Linked DNA regions of Homo sapiens. The protein of the gene in region 1 interacts with the protein of each later gene in a pairwise test. Each region holds a gene or a part of one and is shown on either strand. Other genes may lie near its edges.

Evidence for each region.
Region 2: the proteins of TMEM123 (region 1) and SPATA17 interact in binary tests that used the Homo sapiens proteins (3 or more experiments, as listed by UniProt).

What each region holds. Positions count from the first base shown.
Region 1 is NC_000011.10:102,442,404-102,450,294, forward strand, and holds part of TMEM123 (porimin precursor), read right to left. Parts: intron 6,466-7,891; coding exon 6,409-6,465; intron 1-6,408. UniProt on the Homo sapiens protein: Implicated in oncotic cell death, characterized by cell swelling, organelle swelling, vacuolization and increased membrane permeability.
Region 2 is NC_000001.11:217,773,859-217,781,749, reverse strand, and holds part of SPATA17 (spermatogenesis-associated protein 17), read right to left. Parts: intron 7,417-7,891; coding exon 7,213-7,416; intron 553-7,212; exon of another isoform or gene 467-552; intron 1-466.

The DNA.
Region 1 (7,891 bases):
ATAAACGTAATCCAGCATATAAACAGAACCAACGACAAAAACCACATGATAATCTGAATAGATGCAGAAAAGGCCTTCAACAAAATTCAACAACCTTCATGCTAAAAACTCTCATTAAACAGGGTATTGATGGAACGTATCTCAAAATAATAAGAGCTATTTATGACAAACCCACAGCCAATATCATACTGAATGGGCAAAAACTGGAAGCATTCCCTCTGAAAACTGGCACAAGACAGGGATGCCCTCTCTCACTACTCCCATTCAACACACTGTTGGAAGTTCTGGCCAGGGCAATCAGGCAGGAGAAGGAAATAAAGGGTATTCAATTAGGAAAAGAGGAAGTCAAATTGTCCCTGTTTGCAGATGACATGATTGTATATTTAGAAAACCCCATCATCTCAGCCCCAAATCTCCTTAAGCTGATAAGCAACTTCAGCAAAGTCTCAGGATACAAAATCAATGTGCAAAAATCACAAGCATTCCTATACACCAATAAAAGACAAACAGAGAGCCAAATCATGAGTGAACTCCCATTCTCAATTGTTTCAAAGAGAATAAAATACCTAGGAATCCAACTTACAAGGCATGTGAAGGAACTGTTCAAGGAGAACTACAAACCACTGCTCAACGAAATAAAAGAGGACACAAACAAATGGAAGAACATTCCATGCTCATGGACAGGAAGAATCAATATCGTGAAAATGGCCATACTGCTCAAGGTAATTCATAGATTCAATGCCATCCCCATCAAGCTACCAATGACTTTCTTCACAGAATTGGAAAAAACTACTTTCAAGTTCATATGGAACAAAAAAATAGCCCACATTGCCAAGACAATCCTAAGCCAAAACAATAAAGCTGGAGGCATCATGCTACGTGATTTCAAACTACACTACAAGGCTACAGTAACCAAAACAGCATTGTACTGGTACCAAACAGAGATATAGACCAATGGAACAGAACAGAGCCCTCAGAAATAATACCACACTTCTACAACCATCTGATCTTTGACAAACCTGACAAAAACAAGAAATGAGGAAAGGATTCCCTATTTAATAAATGGTGCTGGGAAAACTGGCTAGCCATATGTAGAAAGCTGAAACCGGATCCCTTCCTTATACATTATACAAAATTTCATTCGAGATGGATTAAAGACTTAAATGTTAGACCTAAAACCATAAAAACCCTAGAAGAAAACCTAAGCAATACCATTCAGGACACAGGCATGGGCGAGGACTTCATGACTAAAACACCAAAAGCAATGCCAACAAAAGCCAAAATAGACGAATGGGATCTAATTAAACTGAAGAGCTTTTGCATGGCAAAAGAAACTACCATCAGAGTGAACAAGCAACCTACAGAATGGGAGAAAATTTTTTACAATCTACCCATCTGACAAAGGGCTAATATCCAGAACCTACAAAGAACTTAAACAAATTTACAAGAAAAAAATCAAACAACCCCATGAAAAAGTGGGCAAAGGATATGAACAGACACTTCTCAAAAGACATTTAGGTAGCCAACAGACACATGAAAAAATGCTCATCATCACTGGTCATCAGAGAAATGCAAATCAAAACCACAACGAGATACCATCTCACAGCAGTTACAATGGCAATCATTTAAAAAGTCAGGAAACAACAGATGCTGGAGAGGATGTGGAGACATAGGAACACTTTTACGCTGTTGGTGGGAGGGTAAAGTAGTTCAACCATTGTGGAAGACAGTGTGGCGATTCCTCAAGGATCCAGAACTAGAAACACCATTTGACCCGGCCATCCCATTACTGGGCATATACCCAAAGGATTATAAATCACACTACTATAAAGACACATGCACACGTGTGTTTATTGTGGCACTATTCACAATAGCAAAGACTTGGAAGCAACCCAAATGTCCATCAATGATAGAGTGGATTAAGACAATGGCACAGACACATCATGGAATACTATGCAGCCATAAAAAAGGATGAGTTCATGTCCTTTGCAGGGACATGGATGAAGCTGGAAACCATCATTCTCAGCAAACTACGGCAAGGAAGAAACCAAATACCGTATGTTCTCACTCATAGGTGGGAACTGAACAATGAGAACACTTGAACACAGGGTGGGGAACATCACACACCAGGGCCTGTCGTGGGTGGGGGTGGGGTGGGACAGCATTAGGAGACACATCTAATGTAAATGACGAGTTGACGGGTGCAGCACACCAACATGGCATATGTATACATATGTAACAAACCTGCACATTGTGCACATGTACCATAGAACTTAAAGTATAATAATAATAAATAAATAAAAGATACATGCACACACATGTTTATTGCAGCACTATTCACAATAGCAAAGACTTGGAACCAACCCAAATGTCCATCAATGATAGACTGGATTAAGAAAATGTGGCACATATACACCATGGAATACTATGCAGCCATAAAAAAGGATGAGTTCATGTCCTTTGTAGGGACGTGGATGAAGCTGGAAACCATCATTCTCAGCAAACTATCCGAAGGACAGAAAACCAAACACCGCATGTTCTCACTCATAGGTGAGAACTGAACAAAGAGAACACTTGGACACAGGGCAGGGAACATCACACACCAGGGCCTGTCGTGGGGTGGGGGGAAGGGGGGAGGGATAGCATGAGGAGATAATACCTAATGTAAATGATGCGTTAATGGGTGTAGCACACCAACATGGCACATGTATACATACGTAACAAATCTGCACGTTGTGCACATGTACCCTAGAACTCGAAGTATAAAAAAAAATTACCATCAATTTTCAGACGCAATCTCAAAAACATGAGTTGAACACAATTAACTTTCTGAGGAGTTGAAGCAGTTAAGTGTACTATGAATTCTTTAGTTAGAAAAATTCTTTTCTACATCCAATCTCTAGTTAAAAACTAGTATTGATATCTCTATGTCTCTCTGTGTATCTATCACTGTTTGTATCTATCAACATTTGCATCTATCAGTGAATCAATCAATCAGTCAATCAATCATTCATCTGTATCACCATTTGCAACTAAAGCAACCTGTCAGGCCAATTGGTTCCTGTCTTTGACTGACTTACAAACTCACAGAAAGTTTCCATCTAATATTCTTTTCACACATAAAACATTTTATCTAAAGTAAACAGAAGAAGGTAGTGTGACATACAGGATTATATACCTGATAAATTCTTTCCACTTCAGTAAGACTTTCATTGTTGCAATCGGGGGTAAAAATTGGAATACAGAATAAGCTGTTCCCAAATTTCCACTGCCTTCTTCTGTAGAAATCTAAATGCAAGCCAGGTCCAAGTGCTCAAAATGGTGGTTAAAAGTTCAGTAGTGCAGAATTAGATCCAATAAAGAATAAAAGGAAAAGGTACCTAATAGTGTAATAAAACATTTTTAAAATAAGACCCTCTCACAACTACCCATCCCTGCCATGAATATGGACAAAACTAACCTCACTAGAGTGGCCCAAATGACTAGGCCAAGGATGAATAACCAAACTAATGGCAATCGTAATAAATGGAACATACATGATTAAGAGATAAACGGCTTTGGAAAGGAGTTGGTGCAAGTTATGTCCAAGAAAAGAGCTTCAGATTGGATGATGGTAACCCAATCCTCTCAGATCCCTCTGTTGGGAAGTATCAATGCTATGTGATCAAGGAGACGGCTGTATCCTGAATGATATTGAGCTGCTGTTCTAGTTACTGATGAGATGTGCACTCCAATCTAGACCATGCCACATTTCCTTACATCCTTGCTCAAACCCATTATGAAAAATAATCTGGGCATGTGTCTTCCTTGCACTATAAAGTGTAAATTCATCCATCCACAGAATCTAAATACTCTGACTGCAAATGAAATAAGGGGAAATTATTTTCTATATAAGCTGAAAGTGTGTCAAACAAGTCCCTGCAGACAAGAATGTCAAAAGTACAGCTGTCTTCAAATAATGATTAGAGGACATAAAAAAATAGAACTGTTACATGTAACTCAGTGGTACATTGGAAAGCAACCTTTATTCCTATTGACTTCAAGTACCTATATTACTGTATAAACAGAAAAACAGCTGTAATAATGTATAGGATTGGAGCATAAACCAGTACACATCTGCAAAATGTATATATTAGTGTTTTGATAAGGCAAGTCAGCAATTACAAAATATCTATGTTGCTCCACAATTGAGTTCAACCAACCAAAAACATACATATCCTGCATACCTACTATGCACCAGGCATAGAGTGAGATGTTAGGATGAATAAATCATAGATTTCACTCTCAAGGAACTTGGAGACCAAAACAAGAGAAAAAAAGATTCTCTGAAATTCCAACGTGGTGAGTCCTATAAAAGTGATAGACACCCAACATTCTAAGGAGTACTGCAGGCAGTCTCCGCTTTTTCCAACAGTACATTCCTGGAATACACATCATAATGGAATTTGCCAAAGATGCTATTTTCCTAGTGAGAGGAAATATGGCGCCACAGAAACTGCACTAAATAAATAGCACCAAATAAATTGGTAAACAGTATGTTCAAAGAAACAAAGCTTCAACAATGGTCTATGTAACTAAAAAGAAAAACAGTTAAGCATCCATCCTATAAAAATACACAAACTTAACATGTTTCAAAAGTGTTTTCAAGATACAAAGAGGAATGCGACAGTTATGAGGCGTAAAACACATTGTGCAAAAACATTTTTAATAGTTGTATTATCTGTTCTCCTTCTAGAAAAATTTGAGGCAATGCTTTTCTTCTTTCTCAAAAAATTTCCCTGTGCTAGAAGGGGCATTTGAAATCATCCCACTGACTCTGGAGCTGCCCTCAAAGTATTCAGTTGATTTTTAATAATCATTCACAGTGAAAAGCATGTTTTAAAAGTAAGGCCACACCACACTTCAGACAGTGTGATAAAGAGACATAGGTTTTAGAATACAACTGGGTTTCAAATCCTGAATGTGACACTTAGTGTCATGTGATCTTGGGCATTTCCTAACCACTCTTGAGTTTCAATTTCCCCATGTGTAAACCAGAAATGACACCTACCTCACCACTGTTAAATTAGTAAATGTATGAGGAGTATCTTATAAGTTGTAGGCATTCAAAAATGGTGTCTATTGCTAATATTACTGTCTTTATGTTTCTTCTACCTCCTTTGTCTACCCAAGGTTAAAAGTTCAGTAGTGCAGAATTAGATTCAATAAAGGACAAAAGGAAAAGCTATCTAATAGTGTAATAAAATATTTTTTAACTAAGACCCTCTCACAACTACCCAATGATAACCACTATTACATTTTGGAGTAATCCCTCTAGACTTTTTTTCCTCTCAATGAAAACGTTTTCTGTAGAATTACTAAAACTAGAATTAAAGTATGTCCTGACTACGTACCACCAGACACCAGTCAAAAAGGCAGAGATAATGAAACAAAGAACAGCAGTAAACCAAGAACATAAACTAAGTGAAACACTGGGATGCCCCACAGGAATAAAAACTCCAGCAAGTTGCAAAGCAGCATGAAGGTACTTACTGCCACTGACCTTTACACTTTAAAAAAATGGTTACTTATGTATTTTATGTCATGTATATTTTGCCACAAAATAAAAAACAAAAGAACAAAAACTCCTAGAAGTTAAGGCTTGGTCCATTTTGTATTCTTAGAACCTAGGATGTGCTAGCTCATTAGAGTCCATAAATATTCCCTGACTAAAAGTAAACAAAACAAGTTAGTGATAGGATTGGTGTACCTTTTTCTAGTTTCCAACTCAGTCAACTGTGAAGATTAAGGGCAGTGAGAAGATAACTTAAAAATTGTTTACAAGAAACGTACCTTGATGATTTACTACTGATATTGATGACATCAGCCTGGTTCTTGCATCTTTCCATGTTAGTGAACTCAGAGGCCCAAGGCTTTGTCCCAAACTAAAATCACAGGGTAAGGGCCTCACCAAGTGTTTGGGTTGAGTCTGCCTAATGGGTGAAATGTAAGTAGGGTCTCCTTAGAGTCAGCAGAGGTATATTAAGGCTGCCATGGCTGACTAGTTTACAGTGACTTGTTTCATCAATAGGACCTGCAGACTTCTGTGCTGACATTTCATATCTACAGGCAAACTACAAAACCCTCACATCTAAAAATGTGCTTCAAAAATTCATAACATGAAATTCCGATACACTTTTTGTTTTAGAATTTATTGACATCTTTACAAGACTGAGGAAGATTAATCCAGTGAACTATCACTTACTGATGTCTACTATAGGGCACTAGGGCAGGTTATTGGGATTCATGGGTGAAGAACTCAGGGTTAAAACAGGTCAGTGAACCAGCTTATGCCTACTTCCCTGGCTGTTATTACTTCATGTACCCTAGACAAATGAAAATTTGTTTTTTTAATCTTTTAAAACTCACCTGTTGAGTTAGCACTGGAGTTGTGTGGAAGCCCAGAATTCTCTATGTTTGCAGATGCTGTAAAAATAAAGAAATATCCTGTTATGAAAGAACATTTAACTAAGAATACTGGCAGTATGTGGTTTTCTGCCTAGCGGGAGTAGGGGTAGTGGTGTCAGGAGGGTAGATTATTCCACAGGAAGTTCTACTTTGGCCCCTGTTGTTATGAAACATATCTTGAAGCTGTCAGTAAAAGGGACTGTATTACCAGGTTTTTCAAGATAAACATCTAGCTTACATAACAAACACTTACATAGTACTTACTATATACCAGCCACCGAATGCAACAGCTTTGCCAAAATTCATTTACCCACACAATTGGGGACAGATGGGCCAATTTCTGCCACTGAGGACTCTGCTCTTCTGAGTGGAGTGGACCATTTCAGGAGAGGCCGATTCTACTCACAGGCATCTCTAGGTCTTGCACCACCCAACCAACACCCCTAATTTCATACAATGGAGGGATAAAATAGGATTTTCTTATTTAACTGCACCTTCTCAGTAGGGTTTTAATTTTTAAATTAGTACACCTTTAGATTTGGAAAAAATGTAAGAGATTTCTATGTCCCAATTAAGCAACTTTTCAGAGTGCTTTATTCGTTTTGAGTCTTTGTCTAATGAAGATTAAATATGTATAACACATAGGGAGAGAGCAAGTGTATTATTGTGTCCTTTTCACAAAGATGAACTCTCCCCCACTTAAAAAAAAATCCTCCAAGTACAAAGAAAAGCAGTAACTTTGAAGGATTTATCTTTACTTCTTGGGCAAATTTCTTCTTTGTGAGAATTTCTTCTTCTTGATGGGACTATCATCTATTTATCACAAAAGGATACAGTGTAAGATTAACTTGAAAAAGATCAAGGTCAACAGACTACGTAGATGTATTTAGCAGCAGATAGCAAACAATTGCCAACATTATTAGGTGCTTACCACAAGCCAGGGTTATGTGCATTAGCTCATCTAACCCTCTCAACAATTCTTAGGAGTATTGTTTTGCAGACAAGAACTGAGGCCCAGAGAAGGCCGCCCAGATACAAAGTGGCAGAGACTGGAATTGGACCAGATAGTTTGATTCCTAAGCCTGCAGATATGAGTGCCAAAATGGAACTACTGATTTTCTACTATAAACCTGCTCCTCCCCCAACCTTCCCAATTGTTGCATTACCAGCTGCTCAACCCCAAAACCAAGAGGTCATCCTTTGATTCTTCTCTCTTCCTCATCCCACCCTCCAATCCATCAGCAAGTGATTAGTCCCAACCCCCCATAGATCTAGAATCCACCCTTTTATCTCCATTGCCACTCACCATCATCTTTTGGCTGGGCTAACACAACAGCCTGTTTTTGTTTCCCTGCTATTGTCGCTCTTAACGCGATGATTTCTTAATTTCTTGGCGACTTATTTGAACACTTGAATACAGCCATTTTCAAGCCACCTCAATCCT
Region 2 (7,891 bases), on another chromosome or scaffold:
TAGGAGAGCATTTGTTTTTTCATTAAGTTAAAATTTTTTGGTGAATTTCAAATGTCACACTTAATAGGCAGCCTCCTAAACACAGAAGAACCATAACTTTTATTTATTTTAAATGTTATTTATTTAAAATTCTAAACTCTATTGTTCAATTACTCTGATACCAATAGCAACCTTTTGATGACACAAATACTTAGCAGAGGAAAGTCCACAGCTGCACTGTGAAAAGTAACTTACAACATATCCTGCTTTCAAGTTAGTTGTTATTTATACTAGTTACTAAAATCCACTGGTTGTCTAATTAGTATCGTATTAGGCACAATACAAATCAAAGGCAGCTCAAGATTTTGCTGTGCCATTAATTGCATATTGGTTTTTTTCATCACTGTCGTATAGGAGAGAAGTAATATTAAATGGACAAAGATTTCTAATCATATTCCTTATTCTTAAAAATATCTTCTTTAAATAGGTTATCACTAACAAGACACAGCTGGAGTTACTGCAAGCACTGAGTGAAGACTGTGGGGCTAATAAAAAGAAATGATTCACGCCTCATTTATGTTCACTTATGCTTTACATTAATAGAAACCAATAATAGGAACCAGTTACCATAAAAGTCATGGACCGTAAATAACACAAATGGCAAATAAGTATCATCTAGTACTTTTCACAGCTGGACAGGAGGATTGCTATATTTGAAAGTAGTTAATGGATTTCTATTGGAATTTTACTTTTTAAAGATACAGTAACATGATTCCAAGTCCACTATTAAGAAATCAAATGGGACTTCTTTTTTTTTTCTTATTCTTATTCTTATACTTTGACAGAGTCTATGACTTAAAAAATTAATATTTGGTTTTATGACAAGGAGCAAAGTATTTCTCTATGCCGATGTTCATCATTTGTAAAATGGAATAACTACATCACAGAATTTCTCTTAAGATGTGTACGATAATGTGACACCCTTACCATGTACCTAGAACACAGTAAACACTCAAAATGGTTCCCACTACATTGTTATTGTTATTACCATCATAATTATTAGTTTCAAGAAGAGTTTTTAAAAGGTTTTGAGCAATAGTAGCATCAAAGAAATACACAATGGCCCAAGGCTATGACTTTGAAGAGACCAGCATTCACATGGAGCAATGGTCTTCTTGGTGGCCATGTTATGCCTTCTAACCTTTGTTGATAAGCAAACATAACACATATCTACTTGTAGGCTTACTCTACTGTTGTTCTGGAACTTATTAGTTCCAATGAGACTACAAAATGAAAGAGAAGAAGCCCTGCTTAGGATTAGAATGAAAGTAAACTCAGTCTTCCTTTTGGGTTCACTCCCACCTTCATGATCCCTGACTTTTGTGCAGTCATGTCCATGCCCCTATGTCTTTGCAATGCCTGGTACATACATTTATACCTCAGACAATTAGCATCTTGTCTTTGAGCTCAATAGTCTTCCAGCTCCTTGGTTAGTGAACTTGACACCAGCTATCAAGTTTCTCTTACGTCAAATTTTTGTTGATTTATATTTCTTTTGAAAAACTGCCTTTTTTGGATATCAGGCAATCATCTATCCCAGTCATGCCTAGAGTGACATGGGAACCCAGGTTTTGTAAATATATATCTATATTTATATATCTATATATCTATGTGTATCTTTCACCTATCAAACTTTAGATCTGCTGATTGTACTTATTTCCAATTAATCCCTAGAATACCTAGATCATCCAAGACTTAACTTGACACTACAGGTATTTCTGGACTCTTAGCTATGGTTTTTTAATGTTTAGTTTACATTGCCTCCACCTAAGCCCTGGTTAGGAGAGTCAAATATATTTATGTTCTGCTGTATTTTCCATAATTCATGTTATTTATAGTCATTTTATATGTTTAAGCCATTATTAAAACCATAAAATTGTCCTAGATGTTTAAAAAATTCACCTGGCAAGTAAAGCTACTCTGATTAGAGTACAAATATTATCATTTGGGCATAATCTTAAATGTCACCAATGAGGTATATACTTTTTTATTATTGGTAACACACAGGAATATGGCTCAGAAAAAACAAACAAACAAAACAAAATGTAAAACAATCCCATTTTGGGAAAAAAAAAGGAAGAAGGGAAAGAGAAAAGAAAAAAGAAGAATGGTGAAGAAAAGAGGCAAAGGAAGTAAAGAGAGGAGAAGGTGTTAAGAAAAGATGACAGAAGGAAGACTGAGAAGGAAGGAAACAAGAGAATGAAGAATAGGGCAGTGGGGATGACATGGCCAGAGGAAAAGGAGGAGGAGTTTAAAATAGGGAAGGAAGGAGACAGAAGAAGAAGGAAAGAAAAAACACTGAAAGAGAAAATAAATAATAGAAGAGAAGAGAATAAAAAAGAGAGAACGAAGAAAAGAGAATAGATTAGTAGGGATCATTATTTTGTAGCATGCTAGATAAATGTAATTCAGGAGTATATGTGTGTATATATATGTAAGTATACATATATACATATATAAATACATATTTTTTAATTCTGCCATGTGTTTATATATTCTCTATATAAACATAAATATTTCTCTCTCTCCATACACAGACACACACACACACACACACACACACACAAGTTGTTTTACAAATGTGTGTATTTTTCTATTTTTATACTTATACCATATATATATATATCTTCCATATGGGCTGATATACCATTTATACATATATATTTTCCATATACCTATACATCATCCATACATTATTTCTATATATGTACCTTCTGCCTATGCATTCCATACATACTAAATACACTTATGTATATAGGTATATGTGTACATAGAATGGTATGGAGGAAGAAAGCCATGTAGGGAATGAAGATGGTTGTACAGAGGTTGTATTGAGAAACAGAGATGAAGAATGAACACTGACAAGTGTAGAAGAAGACACATCATTAAAAGTATATTAAAAGCAGGGCAATAAAGCAAATGTAATAACATTATAAAACACCTATACCATAATATTACATGTTTAATGGTTAATGTTGTGAATATTGTATAGTGTGGTAGTTTGGTTCAGATGACCTTCATGGTGTTTCCAGCTCAGAAATATTTACATGCCCTTATTTTATTCATGCCATGTAATTTTCACATTTCCTAAAAAGTTGTATGCAAAATTACTCTATGAATTCCATGTAGTACCAATAGCTATACAAATGAATATAGCATGCAACGTGGTTTATTATTATTATTATTTTTTGGGATGGAGTCTTGCTCTCTCACCCAGGCTGGAGTGCAATGGTGTGATCTCGGCTCACTGCAACCTCCACCTCCCAGGTTCAAGCGATTCTCCTGCCTCAGCCTCCCAAATAGCTGGGATTACAGGCATGTGCCACCATGCCCGGCTAATTTTTGTATTTTTAGTAGAGGCAGGGTTTCACCATGTTGGCCAGTCTGGTCTCGAACTCCTGACCTCGTAGGTGATCCACCCACTCCAGCCTGTAATCCACCCAAAGTGCTGGGATTACAGGTGTGAGCCACCGCGCCCACCAGCAGTGTGGATTATTAAAAATTTAAATATGCAATGTTACATCTACCTTAACTGCTTTTGAGTAGTTAATACATTTAACACACTGAACACTTAATATACATGCAGTGGAAATGCTGGAGTTATTATTTTCTTGATAGAATAATTAATAAATTTAATTGCTTGTTGATGCAAAGTTATATGTTATATATGCAATGTGATGATTACTTACACTAATAGAAAAATAGTAATGTACATAATTCAAAATAGCAAAAATTCAATTATTCATAATATAAAATTCATTTTATATTTACATTTAAAACTATTTTAAATGCTTTCACTAGAATATTGATATAACTCTTATTTAAAAAGGAATAATGAAACCATACTCTGAAGACATATCCCCCTAAAAAACTGAAAATTTTCCTACTATCTCTCTTTTGTCCCCTTGCTCACTCCACTATGCTTGTCACTCCAGTTTAGTAAAGGAACGAATGATCAGATTCAGATAAATGGATTAGTTTACTAGGTAATTGAGAATGCTGATACATGGGCCTGGCGTGATGGCTTATTCCTGTAATCCCAGCACTTTAGGAGGCCGAGACAGGCAGATCACCTGAGGTCAGGAGTTGGAGACCGGCCTGGCCAACATGGTGAAACCCTATATCTACTAAAAATACAAAACTTAGCAGGGCATGGTGGCAGGTGCCTGTAATACCAGCTACTTGGGAGGCTGAGGCAGGAGAATCGCTTGAACCAGGGAGGCAGAAGTGGTAGTGTGCTGAGATCCCTCCACTGCACTCCAGCATGGGCAACACAGCGAGACACCATCTCAAAAAAAGAATACGGATATAAATAGAATATCACAGGAACTGAATCAGAGATGAAGAAAAGGAGAAAGCGGTCCAAGGGGGAAACTGACTATAGATTTTCAATTATATTTTATAGCTCTTTCTCTAAGACAGTATAAACCATCAGTTAATAGTATTAATTATCAGTTAGTAGTTTTGAGAGAGTAAAAAAAAAGATACAAATAATGGGAATTAAGGACGTAATTATAGAGAATGGAAACACAACATATATCACAAATAATTACAGTAAAGTGGGAGATTTTTAATGAAATAGAATGCAGGGCTGTCTTATTGCAAGGATGATTCAATGGTTGAGGGTATAAAAGGCAGGCTCTAGGATGACTCCCAAGGGCCCCTGCCTCCTGGTATCCACACCGTCGGGTAGTCTTTTGCCCTTGAATATAAAATAGACTTACTCATTTCGAACATGGCAGAAGTGATGGGATGTCACTTCTAGCATTAGTTTTATAAGCCTGTGGCTTCTGTTTTGAAAGCTGTCTCTCTCTCTCCCTAGGATCACTCACCCAGAGGGAAATGAGTTACCATGTTGTGAGGCAGCTCTGTGAAGATGCCAATGTGAGGAGGGGCTGAGGCATGACAACACCCAACCATGTGAGTGAGGGAACCAACCAAGAGGATCTCACTGCCCTCCTATCCCCACCCTCCGTCTGAGCCTTCATATGAGATCACGGTCATGGTTGACATCTTTTTTTTTTTTTTTTTTTTAATAGAGACAGGCTCTCGCTATGTTGCCCAGGCTGGTTGTGAACTCCTGGGCTCAAGTGATCCTCCCACCTCACCCTCCCAAAGTGCTGGGATTATAGGCATGAGCCACTGTGCCTCACCTGGCTGACATCTGGACTACAACATCATGAGAGAACTTGAGTAAGAGGAACTCACCAAAGGCTGTACCTAGAATGGCAAACCCATAGAAACTGTGAAGTAACAAATGTATGTTGGTTTAACCCATTAGATTTTGGAGTAATTTATTATACAGCAATATAGATACACAAGGGCACGCCTATTCAGGGAGTTAATGGTCAGGAGTTCTGGGAGTTTAATTGTGTGAGCCAAATCTAACACAAGGTAGTTGATACTACATGGTGGCAGCTTAATTATTGATTGGGATGATAGACCTGTGGCTCTCCGGGACTTTTAGGATGGTGACAATCATCATTCACCCCACCCCACTCTACCCTTTAGCCTCAGGAAGTCATTTGCCAAACCTGTTGTACTACAATCTAGTTATAGGGAAGATTTCCCATCTCTACTATGAGTATTGCTTTGTTTTGAGCTGTCTCAAATTCTCAAATTTACATTTGTAAAATTACTCAAACCCAAGTTTTGTTTAAAATGGCATATAAAGACATATAGCATCAAATGAGAGGTTAAATTCAATAAAATTGATAATACATGTATTCCCAGCAACAACAGGTTATAACAAGTAGTGGTATAACAATATTTTTACATAAAAAATCTAGATTCTAGGAAATAATCCATGTTTTAACTTCTTATTCAATATAACAAGATTTAATGCCAAAGAAGTGTTTGTTCACTTCTTTGGTATATATTTGTAAATTACTTTATGTTTATTATTTAAAATTAGAGTTGCAAAAAATAATTTTCCTCTGGTCAAAAAAATGGAACAAAACAATAATCTATATATATATAGATAGATAGATAGATTATAGACTCTCTCTATATATATATATATAGATCGGTCGCCAGGCTGGAGGGCAGTGGCACGATCTCGGCTCACTGCAACCTCCGCCTCCCGAGTTCAAGTGATTCTCCTGCCTCAGCCTCCCGAGTAGCTGGGACCACAGGGTGCACCACCATGTCCAGCTAATTTTTGTATTTTTAGTAGAGATGGGGTTTCACCATGTTGTCCAGGATGGTCTTGATCTCTTGACCTTGTGATCTGTCCGCCTTGGCCTCCCAAAGTGCTGGAATTACAGGCGTGAACCACTGTGCCCAGCCCTGTATTTTTAAAAAGCAAGACACTGTAACAGAGTAGAGAAGGAGCCCATAGAATGGGAGAAAATATTTGCAAACCATGTATCTGATAAGGCATGAATACCCAGAATATATAGAGAACTCCTAAAACTCAACATCAAAAAACAGCCCAATTCAAAAATGGGCAAAGGACTTAGAATAGACATTTCTTCAAAGAAGACACACAAATGGCCAATAGGCACATAAAAAGATTCTCAACATCGCTAACAATTAGAAAAATGCAAATCAAAACTGCAACAAGAATGTGGAGAAATTGGAACCCTTGTGCCCTGTTGATGGGAATGGAAAATGTGTATAGATGCTATGAGAAACAGTATGGCAGTTTCTCAAATAATTAAAAATATAATTACCATATAATCTGGCAATTCCACTTCTGAGTATATTCTTAAAAGAAATGAAAACAGTCTCAAGAAGATCTTTTACACCCATGTTCACAGCAGCATTATTCACAATACATAAAGTGTGGTCGCAACTCAAATGCCAAATGCAGATAAATGGATAAACAAAATGTGGTATGTACATAAAATAGAATATTATTCAGCCTTAAGAAAGAAGGAAATTCGGACATATTCTGCAACATAGATGAACTTTAAGAACATCGTGCTAAGTGAAACAAGTCATGTCAGGGGATGGGGCAAAGGGAAATGGAGAGTTGTTTAGTGGGTATAGTTTTAATTCTCCAAGATGAAAAGAGTTCTAGCGACAGCTGATTGCACAAAAATATGAATGTACTTAATCCCACTAAACTATATAATTAAAAATGGTTAAATTAAGATAGTGTTATATAAAAAGTGCAAAAAATAGCAAGAATAAAATTAATGACAGAATTCTTATACAGCAAACTAGTACCTGACATTGCTTTCTATTAATAGGTGGTAGAATTTCAGACCGAGGAAAAGAACGGGCGCTTGTACAAGCTAGCCAATCAGTAAGGCTGGTGGAGTCCTTCTGCTTAACTTTAGGTCTTCGGTGTGTTAAAGGCTTTGCCTTCTGTAATTGCAGCTCCCATGGATCAGGCTCTTTTCTGAAGGGTGAATTGTATATTCCTGGAATCTAAAGAAGAAGAAAGCAATTTTGATTTTTTCTTTAATTTTCAGATGAAATAAAGGAAAGAGTTGTACCATGAAATTTTTTCTTATGTTTAAAGAATATTTTAAACTACAACTGTGGTTCTTAACCAGAGGTGGACTTCAGATTTACCTAAAGAGATTTTACAAAATACTCATACTTGTCCTTACTCTAGACCAACAATTTCAATATCTTTCAGAATTGAGCACTAAACATTTTAAAAACTAGTGAGCTCAAGTTCCTATCTGTCACACAGCCTTTTTACATCACTATACTTAAGAAAAAATTACAGTAAGACTCTAAGCCATTCATTTTGTATTCTAACTGTATGCTATGTATATTTAACTATACGTGTAAGTCATACATTCACTCACAGGAAGTCAAATATACAATGCTTGATCAAGTTTCAGGTACAAAATATGTACTCAAATATTTGACTGATTATTTTAATTATTATTCA